Linked DNA regions of Homo sapiens. The protein of the gene in region 4 purifies or fractionates together with the protein of the main gene of each other region. This does not show direct contact. Each region holds a gene or a part of one and is shown on either strand. Other genes may lie near its edges. The genes, in order: PUS7, RAP1A, PAAF1, PPP4R2, MIDEAS, CT45A1 and FAM133B.

Region 1 (3,500 bases), on a different chromosome or scaffold from region 4:
ACAGTAATAATCAATTCAGCCAACAATCATGCTTGGGTACCTAAATAATTGGGTAAAGACTTTGGGGGAACAGGATTTTTACACAATTTCAAAAGTATTTCCCCACTGATGACTAATTAAAAGCAAAGACAAAGAGACTCTTAGAGTGTAAAAATCTAGTAAATACTATCCTAATTAAATGATTAAAGTTATTATCATTGTTGGACAAAATCACTGCCTTTTGATGTGATGCATTGAAAAGGGCCATATCACCTCAGTAATATTTCTACCAAAGTGTTTACCTGAGTCTCAGCATGAGGAAACAATCAGATAAATCCACATTGAAAGACGTGTAAAAGCGCTGGCCTGGATTCTTCTAAGGGCCAGATATCATGAAAAACAAGGCTAGACAGATCACTTAGTGGAAACCAAACAGACATCACAGCTGCAATGTGTGATCCTCAATTGGATCCTGGCAGCCTAAAAAACAAAAAGATGGCCAGGTGCACTGGCTCATGGCTGTAATCCCAACACTTTGGGAAGCTGAGGTGGGTGGATCACTTGAGGCCAGGAGATCGAGACCAGCCTGGCCAACATAGTGAAACTCTGTCTCTACTGAAAATACAAAAAAACATAGCCAGGTGTGGTGGCATGTACCTGTATTCTCAGCTACTCGGGAGGCTCAGGCAGAAGAATCTCTTGAACTTATCTCACGCCTGTAATCGCAGCACTGTGCGAGGCCAATGTGGGTGGATCACCTGAGGTCAGGAGTTCAAGACCAGCCTGGCCAACATGGTGAAACCCGTCTCTACTAAAAATATAAAAATTAGCTGGGCACGGTGGCTCATACCTGTAATCTCAGCACTTTGGGAGGCCGAGGCGGGCGGATCACCTGAGGTCAGGAGTTCAAGACCAGCCTGGCCAACATGGTGAAACCCCATCTGTACTAAAACTAAAAAAAAATTAGCCGGGCATGGTGGTGTGCGCCTGTAAGCCCAGCTACTTGGGAGGCTGAGGCAGGAGATTCACTTGAGCCAGGGAGGCAGAGTGAGCTGAGATCATGCCACTGCACTCCAGTCTGGGCAACAGAGAGAGACTGTCTCAAAAAAAAAAAAGGAAAGAAAGAAACAACATTGGGTGTTAGTGGTGACACTAGAGATAAAAAGGGGAGAAAGGCTTTTCAGTACTCTGTTTCTCTATATACATTTCCTATTGAAGAAGGCAAGGAATTTCTAATGAAAATTTCTATATATTGATAGCAGCATGATACAGATTTGGGTAGAATTCCAGCTATATATAACATGTCTTTTAAAAAAAGAAAGGGAGGAAATAAAAAGTTAGATGTCAGTGGAAATTTTTTTCAGGCAATGAAAATATGAATTTCTTTTCCTTTTCTCTTTTTTATATTTTCCAAGTTTTCTGTAATGAGTTTACAAAATTTTTCTGATTGACAAAAATAATGACCTTTTTTTAAATGCTTGATACCATTCTTTCTATGGGATTTGTCTCTGTCCCCATCCCTTTTCTCACCCCTCTCCCCACAAAAAGTAGAAAATTCCACAGATATTATTGTTCTGTTACTCATCAGCATGTAAATAACAAGAGGCTTTAAGTATATAAAATATGGCCAGGAGTATGCAATTTGAACAGGAGCACGTACCATTACACTGAAGGAAGAATGCAGAGAGAAGAGAAGGACACGCCCACCTCACCTGCTGCAGTGCCTTTTCCTTTCAGGGGGTCATAGGTGTGCTGTATCTTGTTTTCTGTACTGTTCCAAGCAGACAATCAGTATCTCATGATCCTCTTTCTACTCTTTTTTGTTTTGTTGCTTTTTTTTTTTTTTTTAAAGAATAACTGCACAAAGACTTGCCCACCTGAATAAGTGCTTGATGAACTTTAAGCTAGGGAATTTCAGCTATCAAAAAAACCCACTGAAATTGGGAGAGCTTCAAGGAAACCACTTCACTGTTGTTCTCAGGTAAAGAACTGCAGGTGGGAATGTAGACCAGAGGGTCTGGCCAGGGCATCTTGAGTATGTTACTCACGGTTGGTCATAAGGTCCTGGTGAGCTGGTACTAACAGAACAGGAGTGGCAGCAAGGGAGGGCAGAGCAGGGCCTGGCAGGGCTGGGAGAGCAGATACCTCTGTGAGAGCAAATACCTCTGTAGGATTTGTGTGGACACCTTGCCCCTTGAAAACCTAGTGCAGCCTTTGGAAAGACACCATCTCCTTCAAATATTGTAGTAAAAGACACCGAGCCGGCTGGGCGCAGTGGCTCACGCCTGTAATCCCAGCACTTTGGGAGGCCTTGGCAGGTGGATCACAAGGTCAGGAGATCGAGACCATCCTGGCTAATACGGTGAAACCCTGTCTCTACTAAAAATACAAAAAATTAGCCGGGCGTGGTGGCAGACACCTGTAGTCCCAGCTACTCAGGAGGCTGAGGCAGGAGAATGGCGTGAACCGAGGAGGCAGAACTTGCAGTGAGCCGAGATCGCTCCACTGCACTCCAGCCTAGGGGACAGAGTGAGACTCCAACTCAAAAAAAAAAAAAAGACACTGAGCCTGTGATTCCACTTAAAGCGCCTAGAATAGGCAAATCCATGGACATAGAAAGTAAAATAGTGGTTACTGGGGAAAGGGTAGGGTAGGGGTAATGGAAAGTTACTGTTTAGGGGTACAGAGTTTCATTTTGGAAACGGGAAAAAATTTGGGAAGTAGATAGTGGTGAGGATTGTCCAACATTGTGCATATAATTAACCCATTTATGCTAGTGTTCCATTATTGGAACACTAAGCATGTAGGAATTATTTATATCCTACTGCTCAAGGTCATCGCCAAGGTCTGATTGCAAAAATTCAAAAAATTGCAACCTCTGCCATAAATGGGTTAATACCGCCAAATTGCACACTTAAAAATGGCTAAAATAGTAAATTTGACATTATAAATATCTTACCACAACTTAAAGAAAGAAAGAGCCCTTGGGAGGTAGAGAGAAAGCTGCAGGAGAGTGAACGAAAGACTTGGAAGCCAGGCCGTAGTCATTTATGAGCTGCATCCCTGAGTATTTGACTGTAACTTTTTTTCCTCTGGATAATTTGTGTCCCTGTAGAAATATAACAGGAACTGATGACCAAGTACAGCAAGCTATGAACTCTCTCAAGGAGATTGGATTTATTAACTACTATGGAATGCAAAGATTTGGAACCACAGCTGTCCCTACGTATCAGGTTGGAAGGTTGGTATTTAATTTCTTTTATCAAAAATAGCTTTCTCATAAACAAAGCAGGGTTTGTTGGTGGTGGTGTTTTTAATTATTTCTACGTTCTCCCATGTCTGGGGCAAATGAACCACAGTTTCATGATTTTTGTTTTAAGTTAATGAGTGCACAGGGTAAAAAATCGGAGTTCAAAAGGATATGACCTGAAAAGTGAGCTTTCCTACCACTCTTGGTTACCCATCCAGGGGTTCTATTTTTATTTTTTTATTTTATTTTATATATTTATTTTTTCTGAGAC
Region 2 (3,500 bases), on a different chromosome or scaffold from region 4:
ACCAGATCTGGGCTTTTGCAGATTCACACAGGAAAAACACAGTATTTGTAAAAAAAAGTCACACGCACACAATCCCCAACACTACGAGCACTGTGAGTTACATTTGCTTATTAATTTAAAAATATTTTCAAGGATAGTTTTAAAGGGAAGAGATTTGAATAAAAATAATAAGTACTTTATTTCTGAATTTAGGCAGTATTTGGAAACTAAAAGAAACATTAAGAAAGGTATGATAACTCACTGTTTTAAAAAATGCAAACACCTTATAAGTATCACAAGCCTGTATTTTTTTAAATTGGTGGTTGCTTCTTTTCTCCATTGGAAGATACCGAGCAGACAATTCACAGTTCATGTGAGTTTACTTATCAGTCAAAAAGAAATACTATTAATATCAATCTCTGGCTAACTTGCTTTATATTATTCAGTCAAGTGGAAAGTATGAGTAGAGCTCTAGTCAGGTTCTAGAATGACTAAAAATGGCATCTGCAAACTCTCTTTTTTTAATTAGGAAAATTCAGGGCTGAGAGAGAAAACAGGAACACTAAAAGTAATGTTTTTCTAAACATCATACACACAATTTCCCATTTTTTTGCTCCTATATTTTACTTAGAAGCTGCTTAACAAACAAGAAGTCTGTATTTCACTTCTCATCACCTCTGCTCACACGACTGGTTTTTTTAAAGTCCTGCAGCAATCACAAATGCTACAAAAACCACATGCAGAAGAATTTCACCTTACAGTGAAGAGTTTTAAGGTAATAGCTCCAGAAATACAAAGTCTAAAAGCGAGGATATCCTGTTAACCAAGAACTCAAAATGCTAACTAAATAAAATTACTGCAGGAGATTGTACATATATATTTTTAAAAGCATAAATATATGCTTTTTACTGACGAAATGATAGGAATCTTGGAATGTTTTATCCTTCAATTTTTAAAAAAACAATAGTAACAACCAAAGTGTACTGAGTCCCATCTTCTCTCAAAGGCTGCCTAACTGCATGTAAGCCTAGGCTGTTTCTTTTGAATTTGATCTCCAAATTGGTTGTACAGATCTTCACAAACATGAAGCCTAAGCACTTCCTCCAAAACCCTCCCTTTTGTTTTCCTTTAAACCCTCAGATCTTACCTTACCTGTGTTACTATTAATCCAGATTCCCTGTCTTCAACCTCTTCCTTCCTCAATTCATTCTTTACTCTACAAGCGAATTCATCTGCTTTTCGATGAATGCTTTTATCAAGTCATTTTCCACATACCAAAGCTTGTACTCCTGAAAAAGTCTACACTTATCAACGTAGCATTCAATGGCTTAAAAGTCTAGCCCCAATCTCCATAATTCTCCCTTATCTCCATATTTTCTAACTATACAAAAGCCTAGGCTTCTGTCAAATTAATCACCTGTCCTCCAACTTCTCCTGAACTTTCTTTCTATCTTGGCACATGCCATTCCTACCACAAAGAATGTCCACCATTCCCCTCCTGCTGCCACTGCTCACCACAGCCCATTTGCATTTCAGTATTTATTCATGTAAACAGAAACACAAAAATGAGATATTTCTTGCCCTTGAGGAGACTGGCAGAAAAAACAAATTTAACGAAAATAGCTAGTTTTTATTAAATACCTATGTGCCAAGTGGTCTTACACATTATTCTAATCCTCTCAACAATCCTATGGGGTAGATATTATTCTCCTTTTATAAAAATAAGGAAGCCAAGGTTCAGAAAAATCAAATCATACACATATTTAGCAGGTTGCCTCCAATCATGTACTTAGTAAGTGGCAAAGCAAGGACACAAACCCAGGCTGCCCAACTCCAGAGCTACTGCTCTAAACATTCACAGATTTTTTTTTTGTTTTTTCAAAGTCAGAACCATGTGACTACCCCCCTCATCTATCTGAAATAATTTAGTTTTACATAATATTTATATTTATTACATACTATAAAACAAGCTTTCTCATGTTTGTCATTTTAATAAAAGAACATTAAAATTCTAGCTCTCCAAAAAAAAAAATGCTGAAATTCCAACTTTAATCAGTAATTTTTTTTTTGGTCACAGATTACTTTTACCTAAAATATTTTTAAAGAAACTCATTTCAGGACAATTGCAAATTTCTTTCATACACTATGATGGTTTTACAGATTATTAATAATATGAGGATTTCTGCTATTACCACCCAAGAATGTAACAGATATCTATCACATTGGCAAAGATTGTAAAAACTGACCTACTCAATGCCATTGAAGGTGCAGTGAGACACATACTCTTATACACAGGGTAATCACCCTCTGATCCAGTTATCCCACTTCTGGGAATCTATCCTACAGGAAGAAAAAAAAAACAGAGATGCAATCAAAGATACATGTACAAAAAATGTCTGTCCCAGTGTTATTTAAAACAGTAATATTATAAAGAATCAACTTTAAAGTCTCAAACTAGGAGACCAACATCCCATTCAGGAAAAAAAAGTATGATCAAAACAGTATATATAAAGTTATAATTCTAAGTTTCGTAAAAAAAATAAATAAAAAATCCGTACATGCAAGGAATAAACTGGAAAAATGTATATTAAAGTATCAGTAGTAATTTTTTCTGGATGATAGGATCATGGATGTTTTCAATTTATTCTTTACACTTAACATTTTTTTCAAAATTTGCCACAGTATAACATGAATTACTTTAAACAGAAAAAAAAATGTTTAAGCAGTTATAACCACTGAAAAAGATCCTGAACCTAACAAGGGCATATTACTTGGAATAAGAAATACATTTCCTAGTGCAAAGAAAACGTCAGACTTGTTACCAGCTTCTATTATGCCCAGCAGCTTGTTTCCAGCTTCTATTATGCTCACCTTTACTTTTAGGTTGTGTAAAGAATGTCATCCAAAACTCAGTAGTACCTGTATTTATGAAACTGCACAAGGCTCACTATCTAAAAGTCAGCCAATGTTCCAAGAGAAAGAATCACAGTTAAATGGACTATTTTATTATATATGTCTACTGAGAATAATACAAGTCCAATTAATCCAAACTCAAAACATGCAAAAATGGAAAAACCAGAAAAATTGTTCTCATTTTGCAAACTAACTAAATATATTATTGTTGCCTTATAAACACATCATAATTAATTAGGTCGGGAGAGAAGAGGATCTTGAAAATAAAACTGTCAAGCTAACAACAGTCACTAAAAATGCACATTTACGCATGCTATTTGCACATTTCTGTCCTAGCAGATACTTGACTTTAGTGGCAAAGGATGATTTTAATCAGTGTAGAAAAAAATATTAACATCCCATTCTACAAAACAACTTCTGACGTTAAACAGAGAATTGAAATTGCTAGCTGAACCAGGAAACAACTTCCCTACAACGTGTGTATATACATGCATATGTGTGTGTGTGTGTGTGTGTGTGTGTGTGTATGTATACATATGCAGAAAAGCTATTTACAAAAAATAAGTCTTGGACTGAAGTAAAACAGGCAGTAAAGCAAACAATTCTTA
Region 3 (3,500 bases), on a different chromosome or scaffold from region 4:
GAGGCCAAGGCGGAGGATTGCTTGAGACCAGCCTGGGAGACATAGGGAGACCTCGTGTCTACAGCAAATAAAACTAGCTGGGCATGGTGTTGGGTGTCTGTAGTCCCAGCTACTCAAGAGGCAGAGGTGGGAGGATTGCTCAAGCCCAGCAAGTCAAGGCTGCAGTGAGCTGTGATTATGCTACTGGACCTCCTACCCTGGACAAGGGTAGCCGTGATCATGCTGCGTGGTCTCCTACCCTGGACCAGAAAGTGAGACCCTGGCTCTAAAAAAAGAAACACACACACAAATACACAAATATATATATATACACACACACATATACATATGTATACTTAACATAAAAATTCAAGGAAAATACTGTATTTTATTTTACCTATTTTATTGTGCTTAATTATGTTCAAAAATCCTATTCTAACTGCTTGAGCTAGGATTGTGCCACTGTACTTCAGCCTGAGAGACAGAGCAAAACCCTGTCTCAGTTAAAAAAAAAAAAAAAAGCCAGGTGCGGTGGCTCTACTAAAAAAAAATACAAAAAATTAGCCGGATGTGGTGGTGGGCCCCTGTAGTCCCAGCTACTCGGGAGCCTGAGGCAGGAGAATGGAGTGAACCCGGGAGGCGGGGCTTGCAGTGAGACCAGATAGTGCCACCGCATTCCAGCTTGGATGACTGAGCAAGACTCTGTCTCGAAAAAAAAAAAAAAAAAAAAAAAAAAAAAAGCCAGGCACAGCAGCTCACGCCTGTGATCCTAGCACTTTAGGAGGCTGTGGCGGGCGGATCACCTGAGGTCAAGAGTTTGAGACCAGCCTGGCTAACATGGTGAAGCCCTGTTTCTACTAAAAATACAAAAAATTACCTGGGCGTGGTGGTGCATGCCTGTAATCCCAGCTACTCGGAAGGCTGAGGCAGGAGAATCGCTTAAACCCAGCAGGTGGAGGTTGCAGTGAGTGGAGATCGTGCCATTGCACTCCAGCCTGGGCAACAAGAGCGAAACTCCATCTCTAAATAAATAAATAAATAAAATAAAAATACACAAAAGACCTACATTTTATTTTAACTAAAATATATAAACATACATTAAAATTCACCTTCTCTTTATTAGTCCACTTATTATTACAAGGACCTTGGCTATCTTGTAATAAACTGTAACCAAAAGGCACAGTTTCTTTAAAGCAAGGCAAATCTTTACTTAGGCTAAAAAAGCAATCTAAGAGCAAAACATCAACTGGGGTTTATATTTTTTTAGATCTTTTCCCTAATATTTTGCATTTTTCTTGCCGATACATACTATTAAAGCAGTATTTTTTAAACAGAATCTAGCTCTGTCACCTAGGCTGGAATGCAGTGGCATGATCTCAGCTCACTGCAACCTCCAGTCCTAGGTTCAAGGGATTCTTGTGCCTCAGCCTCCTGAATAGCTGGGACTACAGCTGGGACTACTACCATGCCCAGCTAATTTTTGTATTTTTAGTAGAGACAGGGTTTCACCATGTTGGCCAGGCTGGTCTTGAACTCCTGAGCTCAAGTGATCCGCCCGCCTTGGCCTCCCAAAGTGCTGGGGTTACAGGTGTGAGCCACTGCCCCCGGCCTAAAACAGTTTTAAAAAAACATTATCAAGTCTTTACAAAGCAACAAACTTAATGTTGTTGTTGTTGTTGTTGTTTTAAATTACCAAGCTACCTTCAACAACCAAGGAGTTTTTTTGTTTGTTTGTTTGTTTGTTTTTGAGATGGAGTCTCACTCTGTTGCCCAGGCTGGAGTGCAGTGGTGCAATCTTGGCTCACTGCAACCTCTGCCTCCTGGGTTCAAGCAATTCTCCAGCCTCAGCCTCCCAAGTAGCTAGGACTACAGGCGCGTGCTACCATGCACGGCTAATTTTTTGTATTTTTTTTTGAGATGGAGCTTTGCTCTTGTTGTCCAGGCTGAAGTGCAATGGTGCCATCTTGGCTCACTGCAACCTCCGCCTCCCAGATTCAAGCAATTCTCCTGCCTCAGCCTCCCGAGTAGCTGGGATTACAAGCATGTGCCACCATGCCTGGCTAATTTTGTATTTTTTTTTTTTAATAGAGACAGAGTTTCTCCATGTTGGTCAGGCTGGTCTCGAACTCCCAACCTCAGGTGACCCGCCTGCCTCAGCCTCCCAAAGTGCTGGGATTACAGGCGTGAGCCACTGTGCCCCGCAATTTTTTGTATTTTTAGTAGAGATGGGGTTTCACTGTGTTAGTCAGGATGGTCTCCATCTCCTGACCTCGTGATCCGCTCCCTGGCCTCCCAAAGTGCTGGGATTACAGGCGTGAGGCACCGTGCCTGCACTTTTTTTTTTTTTTTTTTGAAGGTAACTTGTAGATTCAGTTTTCTTTATGAATTGGAGTTAATGATGTCAACTCTTAAGGAGGAGGGTGGTTTTTGTTTCTGTGTGTGTTTATTTTTATTTTTATTATTTATTTATTTATTTATTTATTTTTGAGATGGAGTTTCGCTCTTGTCGCCCAGGCTGGAGTGCAGTGGTGCGATCTCCGCTCACTGCAACCTCCACCTCCTGGATTCAAGCGATTCTCCTGCCTCAGCCTCCCAAGTAGCTGGGATTTCAGACATGCGCCACCACGCCTGGCTAATTTTTTTGAGACGGAGTCTCGCTCTGTTGCCCAGGCTGGAGTGCAGTGGCATGTTCTCGGCTCACTGCAAGCTCCGCCTTCCAGGTTCATGCCATTCTTCTGCCTCAGCCTCCGAAGTAGCTGGGATTACAGGTGTCCGCCACCACGCCCAGCTAATTTTTTTGTATTTTTAGTAGAGACGGGGTTTCACCGTGTTAAGCAGGATGGTCTCGAACTCCTGACCTTGAGATCCGCCCACCTCGGCCTCCCAAAGTGCTGGGATTACAGGCGTGAGCCACTGTGCCTGGCCTGTTCTTATTTTTTTGAGACAGGGTCTTGCCCTGTTGCCCAGGCTGGAGTACAGTTGCATGATTATGGCTTACTGCAGCCTTGATCTCCTGGGTTCAAGAGATCCTCCCACTTCAGCCTCCTCAGTAGCTGGGACCACAGTCATGCACTACCATACCTGGCTAATTTTTTAAATTTTTTGTAGAGACAAGGTCTCACTATGTTGCCCAGGCTGGTCTTGAACTCCTGTGTTTATTTTTTAATACATGGGGTCTCGCTGTGTTTCCCAGGTGCTGAATTTGAACTCCTGGTCTCCAGTGATCCTCCCTCAGCCTCCCAAGTAGCTGGGACTCTAGGTGTGATCCACCATCTTGTTTCTTGTTTTTGTTTTTAAATAACAGCTTTATTGAGATAAAAATGTGTGCTATCTATGTGCTAGTTACTTTACATATATTATTTCTAGTATCACCCCCAAAACAGTCTATACCCATTAACAGTCACTTTCCACCCCCCAATCCTAGCAACCACTAGTTTACTTTCTAGCTCTGTGGATTTGCCTACTTTGGACATTTCATATAAATGGAATCATAAAATACATGGCCTTTTGTGTGACTTCTT
Region 4 (3,500 bases):
GATCCAACCTATGGCTGATTCTGCATTGCAGCTGATTAGCAGATCAGCACTCTCACCATGTGAAAGTCTTCCAATAGATGCCATCATTGCCTTGAATCGTCTCTGAACTTGGAGACTGCTGGTGCAAATCTTATCACTTGATCCAGCCGCAATGCCTATCAAAAGGTCACAGCAGTGGCGGAGAACTGATGACTTCTCAAGGGCAATAAAGTTAGGCATATCTTTGAATCTGCTAGCATAAGGAGTACCCCTTTCCTCGTTCTCATTCCCAACCACAGTATTAGACCTCTTGCTCACACCAACACTCAGTAATGCCTGGTGTAACCCATCAAATATGAAACACAAGAATACTAAACTTGGGGTCACAGGGTGGAAATGAGATTTATGTGCTGGGTCTAGCATAGACTTGGCTGCTTTTTTAATGTCCTTAATATCCCCAATGCTGGGTTGGGGTTCCAATGCATCCAGTGGATACTGTCTGTTTTTCCCAGATAGCTCAAATCTTCCTTGAAGGTCAGGGAGCCCACTCCTGTCCATTGCGTCATCTCCTGGGCTGCTGGGCTGTGAGTCCTTTCTTAGATGAGACATTGTGGAAAATTGGTTCCGACTTAATTCTTTAATTTTGTTAAGAATCATAGGTCTAAAAGATCTTTTGTAAGATCTGTCACAGACCCAAACAAAAAGACTGTGAGAATTAACATAAGCATACAATTTAAGAAAATAACCCATTATTAGTCGCTATGACTTGACTCTGCACTTCTTTACCATTTTTCCAAAATACCTCACGTTCATGAGCAAAACAAAACATATTTTGCTTCATAAAAGAAATTTTTATCATGTATACATTTTAATAGTTTTTCTGTCAAGAAATATAGTATGGGATTATTTTAGTATCTTATTTAGCAACATAACTATATTCTTGGGAACATTCTAAAAACAAATTGACTGGGCTGGGTGTGGTGGTTCACATCTGTAATCTCAGCACTTTGGAAGGCCAAGGCGGGAGGATCACTAGAGTTTAAGGCTGCAGTGAGCTATGATCACTCATCACCGCACTCCAGCCTGGGTAACAGAGTAGTCTATGAAAGCAGAGCCAGATTAACCTTAAACCAATGGTTCTCAGCAGGGGACAACCTCCCCTCCCTGCCTTTCACATCTCCAAGAGACATTTGGCAATGTCTAAAGATATTTGGAGAGGGGAACACTACTGGCATAAGTGGGTAGAGGTCAAGGACAGTGCTAAACCTCTTATAATCCCCAGGACACCCACTCACAACAGAATTATCTGGTACAAAATGTCCATAGTTCCAAGGTTGAGAAATTGTATCCAAATTTAATTCTTACTTTGCTATATCTAAATCTTGACAACTGGAAATATTTTCCATCATAAAGAGAAAAGCCATCAAGTAGTTATTCCAAACATGGGAATTATGCCCTAGAGACACCCTGGAAAGGCATCTAGAATGGCATCTCAGGGCAATGAGTGCCACCACAGTATGTAAATCCAACAATATTAAAATTACAGTAAATCACCAATCTCTTTAATCCAAATCTCTTTAATGGAAAAAACATATAGATAATGTTATTAGTAATATTCTACTTTGGGGACTGAATGGTAGGTTCACAAGTATGTTATCACACTTAATTACATATTAAATAAATTCAGTCTATTTTAAGAATAATATATTAGAAGCAATAAAATGATTAAATATAGTAAATAATATACTAGAAATAGAAAAAATATACTTACTCTGAAGAAGGATAAACACAGCTAACAACCATCACATTCTGCAATAACAAAAATCAGTGATTTAGTATGAAGAAAAGTACTACAACATAAAGTTTCATCATTTTTGTTTCTAAAATCACTCTGGTGGGTTAAATTCCCATTGATTCTAATTTTGCTAGTAAAGGAAAATGGTTAAAAATGAAAACTGGTGAAACAGCAAAAACTAAAACAATAACAAAGGACCAAAAGAGAATATCCTACTCAGCCACTAATTTTTTTTTTCCTATACTTATTTTTTACCCTAATCTAGTTATTCTAGACCCGTAACATCATACACTATACGTAGTAGAGTAACTAAGCTCAGATGGAATCAACAAAGATGTTGAGAGATTGAAGTACTTAAGACATATGTAATTGATTTTCCTTACAAAGCAACACCCAATCCACGGCTTGTTGTGTTGCATCATATATCCCACAGAAAGAGACTCAAACCTTTTTTGTAATATATTTATGATCTTCCCAGTAAAAATAACTTTACTAATATTCAGTGTTCACTGAAAGTTTAGTATGAGTCACAGTAAGTGTTTTGCATTTAATCCCCCTCCCAGCCCTATTATTAACCACATTTTACAGAGGAGAAAACTAACTGGCCCAAGGTCACACAACTATGAAACACTGCAACCCTGATTTAAAGGCAGGGCACCTGGTATGACTACTGTAACATATTGCTACTTTATCTGAAAATCTCCAAAATGTAATTATTACAACTCCTGGAGCTGAAAAGTAAGTACTGATGAGCCATCTCAGTTTCCTGGCCTTTGGGGATATTATTCAATTGAGTGTACAGAGGATCAACAAAATATATTAATCCAGTATGGCCACAAAAACTACTGTAAATCACTATGTAATGGTTTTTGATTCCTGTTCCCAGGGTAAAATAAAGTGGATTTGAACCAGATCCTTAAATGAACAGGGGAGTGTTTCCGGACCAACCATCAACTGAAAATTAGAACTCATTAGTCCAATCTTGGTTCTCACAGGGCTTCCTTCATTTTTCACTCAAGACAAGTCAATTTCTTACTTTTCATTCCCTTAAACACCTTGAATCTTTGTTCTTCACACCATTTCCTTTTTTTTTTTTTTTTCTGAGACAGAGTCTCACTTTGTTGCCCAGGCTGGAGTGCAATGGTGCCATCTCAGCTCTCTGCAACCTCCGTCTCCCAGGTTCTAGCAATTCTCCTGCCTCAGCCTCCTGGGTAGCTAGGATTACAGGCGTGCACCACCACGCCCGGCTAGTTTTTGTATTTTTTGCAGAGACAGGGTTTCACCATGTTGGCCAGCCTGGTCTCGAACTCCTGACCGTGATCCACCCACCTCAGCCTCCCAAAGTGCTGGAATTACAGGCATGAGCCACCACACCCAGCCCACACCATTTCCTTTATTCAGAATACCCTTCCCTTATTCTAACACTCCCTCAACCCCCTCCACACACAAACACTAATGTTTATCTCTAAATCTGACCTGCATCTTTCTACTCAATACCTCATTTACATGCTTGGCACCAGTAAGTTTCCAAAGTTATGTACCTTTGAACTCCAGAATTGAGAAAATGAATTCCATGTGTAAGTTTATAAAACACTCTATAAAGTTAAAATAGCAATTATAACTTCACAGAACCTTTAATAAGTTGATATACACTATGAATTTCCAAGAAATAATAAGCTGCTTTCACCAAACTTCAATGACCAACACACAAACCCTCCTCTACCCG
Region 5 (3,500 bases), on a different chromosome or scaffold from region 4:
TGGATGGTCTCCCACCTGCCCACTCCCTTCTCCCCTCCCCTCCAGGGCACAGGAAACCCCTGGAGAGCTACCCCAGCTTTGGTGGCAGTTCCCTCACTCTGACTCTTGGCTTATCTACCCTCCTCCTCCCGCCCCCACCCAGGGCTGTGACTCAGCACTGAGCAGGGCCCCATGGATGCTGGAGACCTCTTGAGGCTCCAGGCACCATGCCCACCGCAGCCAGGCCCACCTGTGTAGTGATAAGTTGCCAGCGGATGGTTGTGGGGCCGCAGGGGCTTCTTCAGCAGCAGCTTATTCAGCGTTTCCTGGAGGGGAAGTGAGGGAAGGGTCAGGGCACTGACAGGGGTGTCGGTGGTGGACGGAGCATTCTAGGCCCTGATAAAATCCCGAGTAGGGTGGACACTTACTCTTGCCCCCTTAACTGCTGAGAGATAAGGGGTCCACTGGGGTGGTGAGATCACAGGGGGTGGGGCTGCCCAGAAAACAGACCTCAGGTCCTCTTAAGAGAGTCCATGGCCCCAAGGGAGGCAGCACTGCTGGAGAAGGCTCTCAGCAACCATCCAGTCTGAGTCCACTGACCCAGAATCAGGGATGGGAATGGACAGGAGGACACTGCACAGCAAAACCCGGGGTCTGAAACTAGGGCTCCCTTGGGTCAAGCCCCTACAGCCCCTTCCTTAGTCAGACCCTCCTACTGGCCTCAAATGTGCATGCCAGCAGCCATAGGTCCTGAGCAGCAGACATGGATCCAAGCCAGCCCCCACTGAGGGGCCCTCCCTCTGCTGGGGTTGCCTTCTCACCAGGATGTCTCCTCTGGATTCGTGCAGACAGTGCAGGGCCAGCTCCTGGTTGGTGCCAGCACCAGGGAAAATGCTGGAGCAGGCGGCTGTCAGCAGGTCTTCCACTGGATCCACAGGAGCATGAGGAGGGAGGGGAGGAAACCACGTTCAGGGCGGGGCTGGGCAGGGTGAGGCCTGGCCCACCCATGTGCCTGCCCTCACTTGCTGCCCCCAGGCCCCTCCTCACCTTGCCTCTGCTTCTCCCGGCTGCTCTCTAGGTCCTCCCATGGCTGCCACACCAAGTCAGCCTTGTGGGGATCTGCAGCTGCCAGGGCACGGTCCCTCATCAAGGGGATTTCTGCCTGGAACCGGGAGCCCACGTTGATCCGTCTAGAGGAGTGAAAAGGGCAGGAAGTGAGGCCTCACCTTGCGGGGACGGAGAACTTGATGATCCCTCAGGGTGGGAAGAAGATGAGGGGGAGCCGGCAGAGCAAGGCCTCAGCTAGGTGTAGGGAGTCTGGCTTCTAGGGGCTTGGGAGGACAGCCTGACCTGGCACCACCAGAAAGGCAAGGTCCAGAGGCTGGAGAGGGGAGAAGCAGCTGCAGGTTTACAGATGGGAAAGAGCCTCTGGACCCCCCTTTCAACTCTCCTAGAGATAAGTTCAAGCTGAGCCGGTCCTTGCCCTTCCCTGCAACTTCCACACAGAGGCAGGGCGGGGACAGCAAAGCCCAGGGCCACATACAGAAGCTCAAGGAGGCCCTCTCAGCCCTCTGCAGGCCCCACGGAACCCTCCTGTTGCTCCCAGGGCCCACCTGCACACACTGCACCAGTGTGGCCACCCACACCCCTCGGCCAGGGGCAGGGCTGCACTTACGGCTCGATGCTCACTGGGGTGGCCTCCCCCATCACAGAGAGGACAGGCGGGGTTACTTCAGCACTGTCTATGGGACAAAGAGCAGGTTGATAAATAGCACCCCCCTTTCAGCAAAGCACCCCCAATCCTAGTGGCTGCCCTGTATGTGCAAGAGTCACAGTGGTGACACACAGAGCTCACGCAGGGAACACAGGCACCTGAGTCCTGGCTCTGCAGCCTGTCACCTACGAAAACGCAGGCCCTTCACTAAATATTTGGGTGCCTCAGTTTTCACACTCACCAAAAGGGGCTATCACTACCTGTCTCCTACGGTTAATGTGAGAACTGGATAAAATAATGCACAGAGCCTGGCACTCGATAAAGATTATTATTACTGCTTCTACTACCAAAGCCATATCCTTGCCCCCAGAAGCTCCAACACTAACTCCAACATAAAGCTGTGGTTTTCTAGTAAAGAGACTGAAACTTTGAGCACACTAGGGAGGTGGTGAAGGGGATCGCTGTTTTATAGTTATCGTCTCACTTCCTCTTTGGATTTTCTGCCTCAGTTTCTCCCAAGCTAGTTTTTTTTTTGTTTTTGTTGTTGTTGTTGTTGCTTTTTGAGACAAAGTCTCACTCTGTCTCCGCCCAGGCTGGAGTGCAGTGGTGCGATCTCGGCTCAAGGAGTTGAACCTCCAAGTTCAAGCAATTCTCCTCCCTCAGCCTCCCAAGTAGCTGGAATTACAGGTGTGAGTCACCGTGCCCAGGCCCAAGTTGGTCTTCTTAAGGCCCCACATGATCAAAACACTCCTTTGCTTAAAAAAAAAAAAAAAAAAAAATCTTTGCTCTTTACTGACTCCCTCCTGCAATGTGAGATAAAACCTGCAACCCTCCCCTCAGGGTTCAAGGCGGTTCCGCTTCCATTTGTACCTCCCACCACCCATGTGCCTGGACCTGCATCCTAGCTGACTGCTTACCTCCCAACCCCTCACTCTCCCTGCACGGTCCCATCTACAGGCCTTTGCACCAGTCATTTCCTCCGCCTGGTGTGTCCTCCCTGCCCCCCGCCCTCCTCCATCGCTGCGGCTCAGCTCTGGCCCCACCCCTCTTGAATACAGTCCTCACCATCCCAGGCTAGCTGCTGGGGCTTTGCTCACTGGCTGCAGATCCCACACTACCGGGAACCTCTGTTTTTTCAACTCCAAGGCTTTCATGTCAACTCCCTAATGACCTTGCATTCTCTATAGAACAGACCATGGTGTCCTGTACATTCTTGGAGCCCTCACAGGACCCAGTACAAGGCCTTACGCCCGAGTGTTCGGTAGATACTCGTGGACAGACTGACCTCTCGCTGGCTGCCAGTCTGATCTCTACAATGACTTCCTCTTCCTACACAGCCTAGCCAGGGAGAAGCCTCCCCAGGAAGCAGTACAGAAGGCTGGCCAGCCTAGGGCAAACATTTTGCATCCACAGACACCAGGGGGCACCAGAGAGCTACACCATGGGTGAGGTCACAGTCAAAGGTTAATTGGCCAAAGGCATCTATAAGCTAGCTACTTCCACTTAATCCTCTCTACCACCCTAAGGGATTGGATTATCCCATTTTGCAGAGGAAATGGATCTCTTTATGGAGTGGGCAACATTTTTCAGCAGTACATCACCCCAAGCCAGCCCAATATTTCCAGAATGTCTGCTTTTGGCCAAAAAGACTGTTCGAGAGCCCCAGAGACTAGATCTGCCACAAAGGACTATGAGCAAACAGGATGGCCTGGGCATGATGTTCCAGCTTTATGTGTGCTAATGCACCTGAGCCTAGGAAGTGGCTATTAGGTTGAACCAAAGGAAACTACTATTTGTGAATCCAAAA
Region 6 (3,500 bases), on a different chromosome or scaffold from region 4:
CCAACCAGCAGCAGCTCCTGGGGCTCCCTCTGCTGCTGTTGCCCACAGGCCTGTGGACTGCTTCCTTACCACTAGCCCAACACTGTATGTTTCATTTGCTCATTGTGCACGTACTGTCTGACCGCCCCATGAGGATGTGAGCTCCAGAAGGGCAGGGAACGTTGCTCTCTGGGCTGTTTACTGCTGATCCCCAGCTACCGGCACGCTGCCTGCCACAGACGATGAATAAATGAGAGGTGTCAGACCTGGAGTGAAAAGAAAGTCACTTTTGTGAGACAGAAAGGAAGGATGAGGAAAATCATACACTAAAAGGGATTTTTTGTTGATGGAGTACATGTAGAACTTTCAGCAGTAATGGCCACCTCTATTTTCTCAGAATATGTTTGATGTAGAGAGGAGGCTGGTTGAGGTGTGTCCAAGTTGTCTGGCTTCCAGCTTAGTAAAACATGGCAGTTTGTAAGTGAATTTGAGAAATCATGATATCAAGTGAGACTTGCTGCTTTCAACTTGTAAAGCATAACAAGCTGAAACTGTCCCATGAGTACCAGGGATCTGTGAATGTTGCTTTAGAGTTGTACTGCCTTACTTGGTTTCCATGTCTATTCATAGGGCCAGAAAATAAGAGGTGGTTTTATTGTATTATGTGTCCTGGCCTCCGTTTGTCAGGCCTGGGATTTCTCCCTGGTGTATCCTCCCATTTATGAAATAAATAATTCCCTAGAAACTGAGGAGCACATAGATGTACCCAGAGGGGTGATGAAACACACATATCTCACAGCTCAGCTTCTCAGTTTGATTTCCAGAGCTGTCATTCATGAGGTCTATGTGGAGGGGAAAGAAAGTGGTCAAACACCAACTGATGGCTTTTACTCAAAATCTGTTTCACCAGAGCTTATGACAGGACATGCTATTCCACCCAGCCAATTGGATTCTCAGATTGATGACTTCACTGGTTTCAGCAAAGATAGGATGATGCAGAAACCTGGTAGCAATGCACCTGTGGGAGGAAACGTTACCAGCAGTTTCTCTGGAGATGACCTAGAATGCAGAGAAACAGCCTCCTCTCCCAAAAGCCAACGAGAAATTAATGCTGATATAAAACGTAAATTAGTGAAGGAACTCCGATGCGTTGGACAAAGTAAGTAATATAAGAATGTCTGTTTTATAAAACTATAGGAAGTCTCTCTTTCTATGATTCAGAAGATATTCATGTTGCCTGTTGAGTTTCATTCTTTGCCAGAGTTGAGATTGCACATAATTTATGGTGGTTCCTCTTTTCTTTGACTAAAGCATGTACATTTTTTCTTTTTCTTTTCTTACTTGGTTATGGTTAAAGGAGTTACATTCGTATGTATGTGCAGGTGTCTTTTTTATTATTTAGGTTTTGTATGTGCAGGTATCTTGATTTAAGCATTTAAAACATTTCAGCCTCTGAAGCATGATTGCTGAGGTGTAGATTCACTTCTATTCTTCTTTATATTTGATAATACTGAAGTTTTTTTTTTTTCAACATCTTCAGAATATGAAAAAATCTTCGAAATGCTTGAAGGAGTGCAAGGACCTACTGCAGTCAGGAAGCGATTTTTTGAATCCATCATCAAGGAAGCAGCAAGGTGGGTAGAAATAGGAACTGTCCAATTTCTTTAAGCACTTGGGCTCAATAGAGCACTGGGGGTGAGCGTTGGGGAACAGCCCCTGCCTTGCGTTTCTCAAACCCTGGTCCTCACTCACAGTTACGGCTGTCTCCACAGTTACTTAGGCTAATGTTATCTGAGTGTAACTCATTCTTCGAAGACTATGGAGACTTCCATTTTCACCATAGTCTGAGGTGCGCATTGTCCCTCAATTGACACTCTTTGTATTTGCTAGACTACCTCTTTTTAAAAAATTTGTGTAGGCACATAGCAGATGCATATATTTCTGGGCTATATGAGATATTGTGATACAGACAACAATGTGTAATAATCACATCAAGGTAAGTGGGGTTTCTATCACCTCAAGCTTTTATCCTTTGCGTTACAGAGAATACAATTATACTCTTCATTATTTTTAAATGTGCAATTAAATTATTACCGACTATAGTCACCCTGTTTGGCTATGAAATACGACATCTTATTTATTCCATACTTCTACGTATTAATCATCCCCACTTCCCACACCCTCCACCCCCACTAACCTTTGTAGCCTCTGGTAACTGTCATTCTACTCTCTATCTCCATTAGTTCAGTTGTTTTACACTTTTACTCCCAAAAATAAGTGAGAACATGTGAAGTTTGTCTTTCTGTGCCTGGCTTATTTCACTTAACATAAGGACCTTCGGTTCTATCCGTGTTGTTGCAAATGACTGAATCTCATTCTTTTTTTTATGGCTAAACAGTACTCTGTGGTGTATATGTACCATATTTTCTTTACCCATTCATGTGTTAGTGGACACTTAGGTTGCTTCCAAATCTTGGCTACTGTGGATGGTGCTGCAACAAACATGGGAGTGCAGATATCTGTTCGGTACACTGACTTCCTTTCTCTTGGGTATATACCCAGCAGTGGGATTGCTGGATCATATGATAGCTCCATTTTTAGTTGTTTGAGGAACCTCCAAACTGTTCTTCATAGTTAGTTGTTGTAGTAATTTATATTCTCACCAACAGTGTATGAAGGTTCCCTTTTCTCCACACCCTTGCCAGCATTTGTTATGCCGGCTAGACTGCCTCTTACCATGCAGATACATTTCTATTTCCATGCTGACTGTTACTTCATCTTTCTATCTGTCACAGCGCTTCCTACAGCATAGGTTCTTTGGCTATCTTTTGGTTAATGACATGTCTCTTTCTTTTCAGATGTATGAGACGAGACTTTGTTAAGCACCTTAAGAAGAAACTGAAACGTATGATTTGAGAATACTTGTCCCTGGAGGATTATCACACCCCAAATGCATAATCTCGTTAATGATTGAGGAGAGAAAAGGATCAGATTGCTGTTTTCTACAATGGAGCAGGATATTGCTGAAGTCTCCTGGCATATGTTACCGAATCAAATAGCCTTCCAGAGGCTAAGAAATTTCTGTTAGTAAAAGATGTTCTTTTTCCCAAAGCATTTTATTTGAAAGGATAACTTGTGTTTTGGTTATTTTGTATTCCCACCTGTGCTGGTAGATATTATTAACCCATTAGGTAAATACTATTACAGTCGTGGTTTCTGCAGCAGCTCACAGTGTTGTAGCTGGTATTTATCACTACGTTCTTTCGCTACCCATTTCACATTCCCTTTGCCCTGAGATAGCATGTCAGTTGGTCATGATGCTTGGCCTGGCAGGATGACTCAAACCTTCATTACGGAAGAGTCTGAACCATTAGATGTCCTGCCTGGATGGGGTTGCTGTGATCTTCCATTAACTCTAATCGAAAAACACGGGAGGACTAAGAAGCTCTCTAGACATATCACACATACTCTTCCTTAGCCCCTGGTGTAGTGGGAACCCGATCTCAATGTTGAAATCTGTA
Region 7 (3,500 bases), on a different chromosome or scaffold from region 4:
AGCCCTGGAATCTGGAATTTTGGTACATGACAGGCAGAGGCTGACCAGCCTCAATAAAAACCCTGGGCACTGAGTCTCTAATGAGCTTCAATTGGTTGCCAAAATCTCACATGTATTATCACAACTCCTTACTAAGGGCATTAAGTGCCTCTCACGTGATCCCACTAGGGGAGGACCCTTCAAAGCCTGTTCCGGGACTTACCCAAACTTTGCTCCCTGTGCCTTTTCCTTTTGCTGATTGTGCTTGGTAGCCCTTCACAGTAATAAATCTTACCATGAGTACGACTATCTGCTGAAACTCCAGTGAGTCCCTACGAGTTACTCAACCTGAGGGCTGTCTTGATGATTTCTGATACACATGTAATATATTTACTTGGACATTTCTCCTCGAAAGTTCATTCCCTCTCCCCATTAAAACATACTTTGTTTTGGGATAATGCATTTTCTGGTATGCTGCAATGGTTAACAATGGCATTCACACACACTGGTAAACAATCCTTACTTCTTATTTAACTCAAAGGAAGGATTCCCTATTATACATAAGCATACTTTTCAACCAGTTGCCTAGTTTTCAGGGGCACTTGGGATTCTGAAGTTAACAGCTCTGAAGCCTGTTGTATGTTGTCTCAGGAGTAAGGTATTAATAACGAGGAAGACATACTAAAGAATAACATGGCCCATACTCTGATGCTTTATTTACAAAAATCAGTCAGTTTTTCTAATTCATTGAAAAGCTGGCAGATAAAACTAGAAACAAAGCTGAATATTATTCTTCCTGCTATCTGGTTACACATCAGTAAAGGACAAGACTACTTAAACTCACTAAATAGCTTTGACCACTGCAAGGTTAGGGTCTTTTATGGAATAGAGAAGAGACTGGTATGAAAAAGTTACCTGGCAGTGCTTTGGCTATACTGGGTAGTGGGTTCTTAAATGTTTGCTTTATAATTGTACACGTGTTTCACACATTCAAAAGAAAGCACATATCAAATGTTACTTAAAAAAATTACTTATCTGGCAATTGCTTGGTAATCAATAAAATCAATTAAAGTCTTAAGAATAAACTTTAAAAAGTTGATAAAAGCTTATAAATAGGTAAAGTGTTTCACAAATACCAGGTAGGCCTTGGTCGATTCAGATAATCCTGTATTGTTGGCCCTGAAGACTGGATTGGACCCCTTGATCTCGCCATTGCTATTGGGTTCATATAGGCCTTGGGGAAAGAACAACAATTAATCCATTAAAGCAATCATTAAACATGCAAAACCTCACTTACTCATCAAGTAATCTTTACTATAAATGCATAATATATCCAGCTAAGTATATGCAATCTGACTAACCAACTCTTTATTCTAAAAAAATTAATTTAATCCTCTTTTAAGTCTTAAAAGTTTGGGAGAAAATTGTGTGTGTGTGTGTGTGTGTGTGTGTGTGTGTGTGTGTTTTACAAGAGATTTGATGAAATAATAGATACCTCTGACCTACTGATGGCTTTACAGCTCTTTCTCCTAAAGCCCAGTAACCCTGTGAGGGTGATAACAGTATGTTCACTAGAAAATTAAGAAACTCAATTCCAGGCTTGGTGCAGTGGCTCACGCCTGTAACCCCAGCACTTTGGGAGGTTGAGGCAGGTGGAACACCTGAAGTCAGGAATTCAAGACCAGCCTGGCCGACGTGGTGAAACCCTGCCTCTACTAAAAATACAAAAATTAGTCAGGTATGGTGGCACACGCCTGTAATCCTAGCTACTCGGGAGGTTGAGACAGGAGAATCACTTGAACCCGGGAGGTAGAGGTTGCAGTGAGCTGAGATCGTGCCACTGCACTCCAGCCTGGGCGACAGAGCGACTCCCTCTCAAAATAAAATAAATAACATAACATAACATAACATAACATAACATAACATAACATAAATAACATAAAATAACATAACATAAAATAAAATAAATTCATTTCCAAAGAAGTTAAATAAGATCTAACTCTAAATTCATTGTTTATTCAACTACATCTTGTCTCCCACGAAATACTATGTCATAGTGATGACAATTTTATTCATAAATAGTTAACATCAAAAATTGTAGGCAGGCAAGAAAAAAATAAACAGAACATCAAAATGTAAAATGTTTGTGCATCAAAGGACACTGTTAAGAGTGAAAAGACAATTCACAGAATGAGAGAAAATATTTGTAAATCATAAATCTAGTAAGAGATTAATATCCAGAATGTAAAATGAGCTCCTACAACTTAACAACAACAAAAAAACTCCAAGTAATTAAAAAATGGGCAGAAGAATAGGTATTTCTCTAAAGAAGGTATATAGTAAATGGCCAATAAACACATAAAAAAATGTTCAATATCACTAGTCATTAGGGAAATGTAAATTGAAACAACAAAGAGATGCCATTCTATACCCATTAGGATGGCTATTATTAAACAGAAAATTGCAAGGGTTAGCAAGGATGCAGAGAAACTGGAACCCTTTCACATTGTTGGTGGGAATGTAAAACGGTGTGGCCACTGTGGAAAACAGTTTAGTGGTCCCTCAAAAAGTTAAACATAGAACTACCACATGATCCTATATCTAGGTATACACCCAAAAGAATTCAAAGAAGGGACTAAACAGATACTTGTACACAAATGTTCACAACTGCAGAATTCACAAAAGCTGAAATGTGGAAACAACGCAAATGTCCATCTATGGATAAATGGATAAACAAAACTGTGGTATATACATACAATGGAATATTATTCAGCCTTAAAAAAGAATGCAATTCTGATACATACTATATGCAACCTGGATGAGCCTTGAAAATATGCTAAATGAAATAAAACAAGAAAAACACAAAAGAACAAATATATGATTCCATTTATATGAGATACCTAGAAAAGAAAGTAGAATGGAGGTTAACCAGGGTCTGGGGAGAAGAGGAATTTGGGAGTTTACTGTTTATTGATACAGAGGTTCTTGTTTGGGATGATGAAAATGGATAGTGATGATGGTTGCACAACACTATGAATGTACTTAATGTCACTAAACTATATAGTTAGAAACAGTTAAAATGGTAAATTTTGTTATACATATTTTAGCTCAATTAAAACATCTGCAAAAATTTAAATCATGCTGTCTACTACACTTACTACAGCAGAAAAATATTTTAGAGATTTTTTTCAAAAACATATTGAGGCAAAACAAAGCAAAAGGTTTCTTTGTTAATGACAGTGTTTAGCAAAGCGATGTTGTTTTATTAAAATTCGCATTGCTACTGATATAAAGTCTGGTCTTTAATTCAGTCTCTACCTCTTCTATTTAGTTTTTCCAAATTTAAGTCAATAAAAATTTTATTTATTACTATTATTATTTTTTAAAAGACAGGGTCAGCCAGGCGCGGTGGCTCACGCCTGTAATCCTAGCACTTTGGGAGGCTGGGGCGGGTGGATCACCTGAAGTCAGGAGTTCGAGATCAGCCTGGCCAACATGGTGAAACCCTGTCTCTACTAAAA

What was found.
Region 1: the proteins of PPP4R2 (region 4) and PUS7 purify together in Homo sapiens (affinity purification with mass spectrometry; one large-scale study listed by BioGRID and IntAct). This does not show direct contact.
Region 2: the proteins of PPP4R2 (region 4) and RAP1A purify together in Homo sapiens (affinity purification with mass spectrometry; one large-scale study listed by BioGRID and IntAct). This does not show direct contact.
Region 3: the proteins of PPP4R2 (region 4) and PAAF1 fractionate together in Homo sapiens (co-fractionation; one large-scale study listed by BioGRID). This does not show direct contact.
Region 5: the proteins of PPP4R2 (region 4) and MIDEAS purify together in Homo sapiens (affinity purification with mass spectrometry; one large-scale study listed by BioGRID and IntAct). This does not show direct contact.
Region 6: the proteins of PPP4R2 (region 4) and CT45A1 purify together in Homo sapiens (affinity purification with mass spectrometry, with the first as the bait; one large-scale study listed by BioGRID). This does not show direct contact.
Region 7: the proteins of PPP4R2 (region 4) and FAM133B purify together in Homo sapiens (affinity purification with mass spectrometry; one large-scale study listed by BioGRID and IntAct). This does not show direct contact.

Annotation. Positions count from the first base shown.
Region 1 is NC_000007.14:105,480,772-105,484,271, reverse strand, and holds part of PUS7 (pseudouridylate synthase 7 homolog), read left to right. Parts: intron 1-1,831; coding exon 1,832-1,960; intron 1,961-3,094; coding exon 3,095-3,220; intron 3,221-3,500. UniProt on the Homo sapiens protein: Pseudouridylate synthase that catalyzes pseudouridylation of RNAs.
Region 2 is NC_000001.11:111,626,289-111,629,788, reverse strand, and holds part of RAP1A (ras-related protein Rap-1A precursor), read right to left. Parts: intron 2,320-3,500; exon of another isoform or gene 2,226-2,319; intron 1-2,225. UniProt on the Homo sapiens protein: Counteracts the mitogenic function of Ras, at least partly because it can interact with Ras GAPs and RAF in a competitive manner. Together with ITGB1BP1, regulates KRIT1 localization to microtubules and membranes.
Region 3 is NC_000011.10:73,879,999-73,883,498, forward strand, and holds part of PAAF1 (proteasomal ATPase-associated factor 1), read left to right. Parts: intron 1-3,500. UniProt on the Homo sapiens protein: Inhibits proteasome 26S assembly and proteolytic activity by impairing the association of the 19S regulatory complex with the 20S core.
Region 4 is NC_000003.12:73,059,311-73,062,810, reverse strand, and holds part of PPP4R2 (serine/threonine-protein phosphatase 4 regulatory subunit 2), read right to left. Parts: intron 1,789-3,500; coding exon 1,751-1,788; intron 1,153-1,750; exon of another isoform or gene 730-1,152; coding exon of another isoform or gene 1-729. Other genes in the region: EBLN2 (endogenous Bornavirus-like nucleoprotein 2), read right to left, coding at 1-729. UniProt on the Homo sapiens protein: Regulatory subunit of serine/threonine-protein phosphatase 4 (PP4). May regulate the activity of PPP4C at centrosomal microtubule organizing centers.
Region 5 is NC_000014.9:73,725,804-73,729,303, forward strand, and holds part of MIDEAS (mitotic deacetylase-associated SANT domain protein), read right to left. Parts: intron 1,722-3,500; coding exon 1,655-1,721; intron 1,170-1,654; coding exon 1,027-1,169; intron 905-1,026; coding exon 801-904; intron 306-800; coding exon 230-305; intron 1-229.
Region 6 is NC_000023.11:135,720,139-135,723,638, forward strand, and holds the end of CT45A1 (cancer/testis antigen family 45 member A1), read left to right. Parts: intron 1-889; coding exon 890-1,138; intron 1,139-1,519; coding exon 1,520-1,613; intron 1,614-2,837; coding exon 2,838-2,895; 3' UTR 2,896-3,090; downstream 3,091-3,500.
Region 7 is NC_000007.14:92,580,391-92,583,890, forward strand, and holds part of FAM133B (protein FAM133B), read right to left. Parts: intron 1,214-3,500; coding exon 1,116-1,213; intron 1-1,115.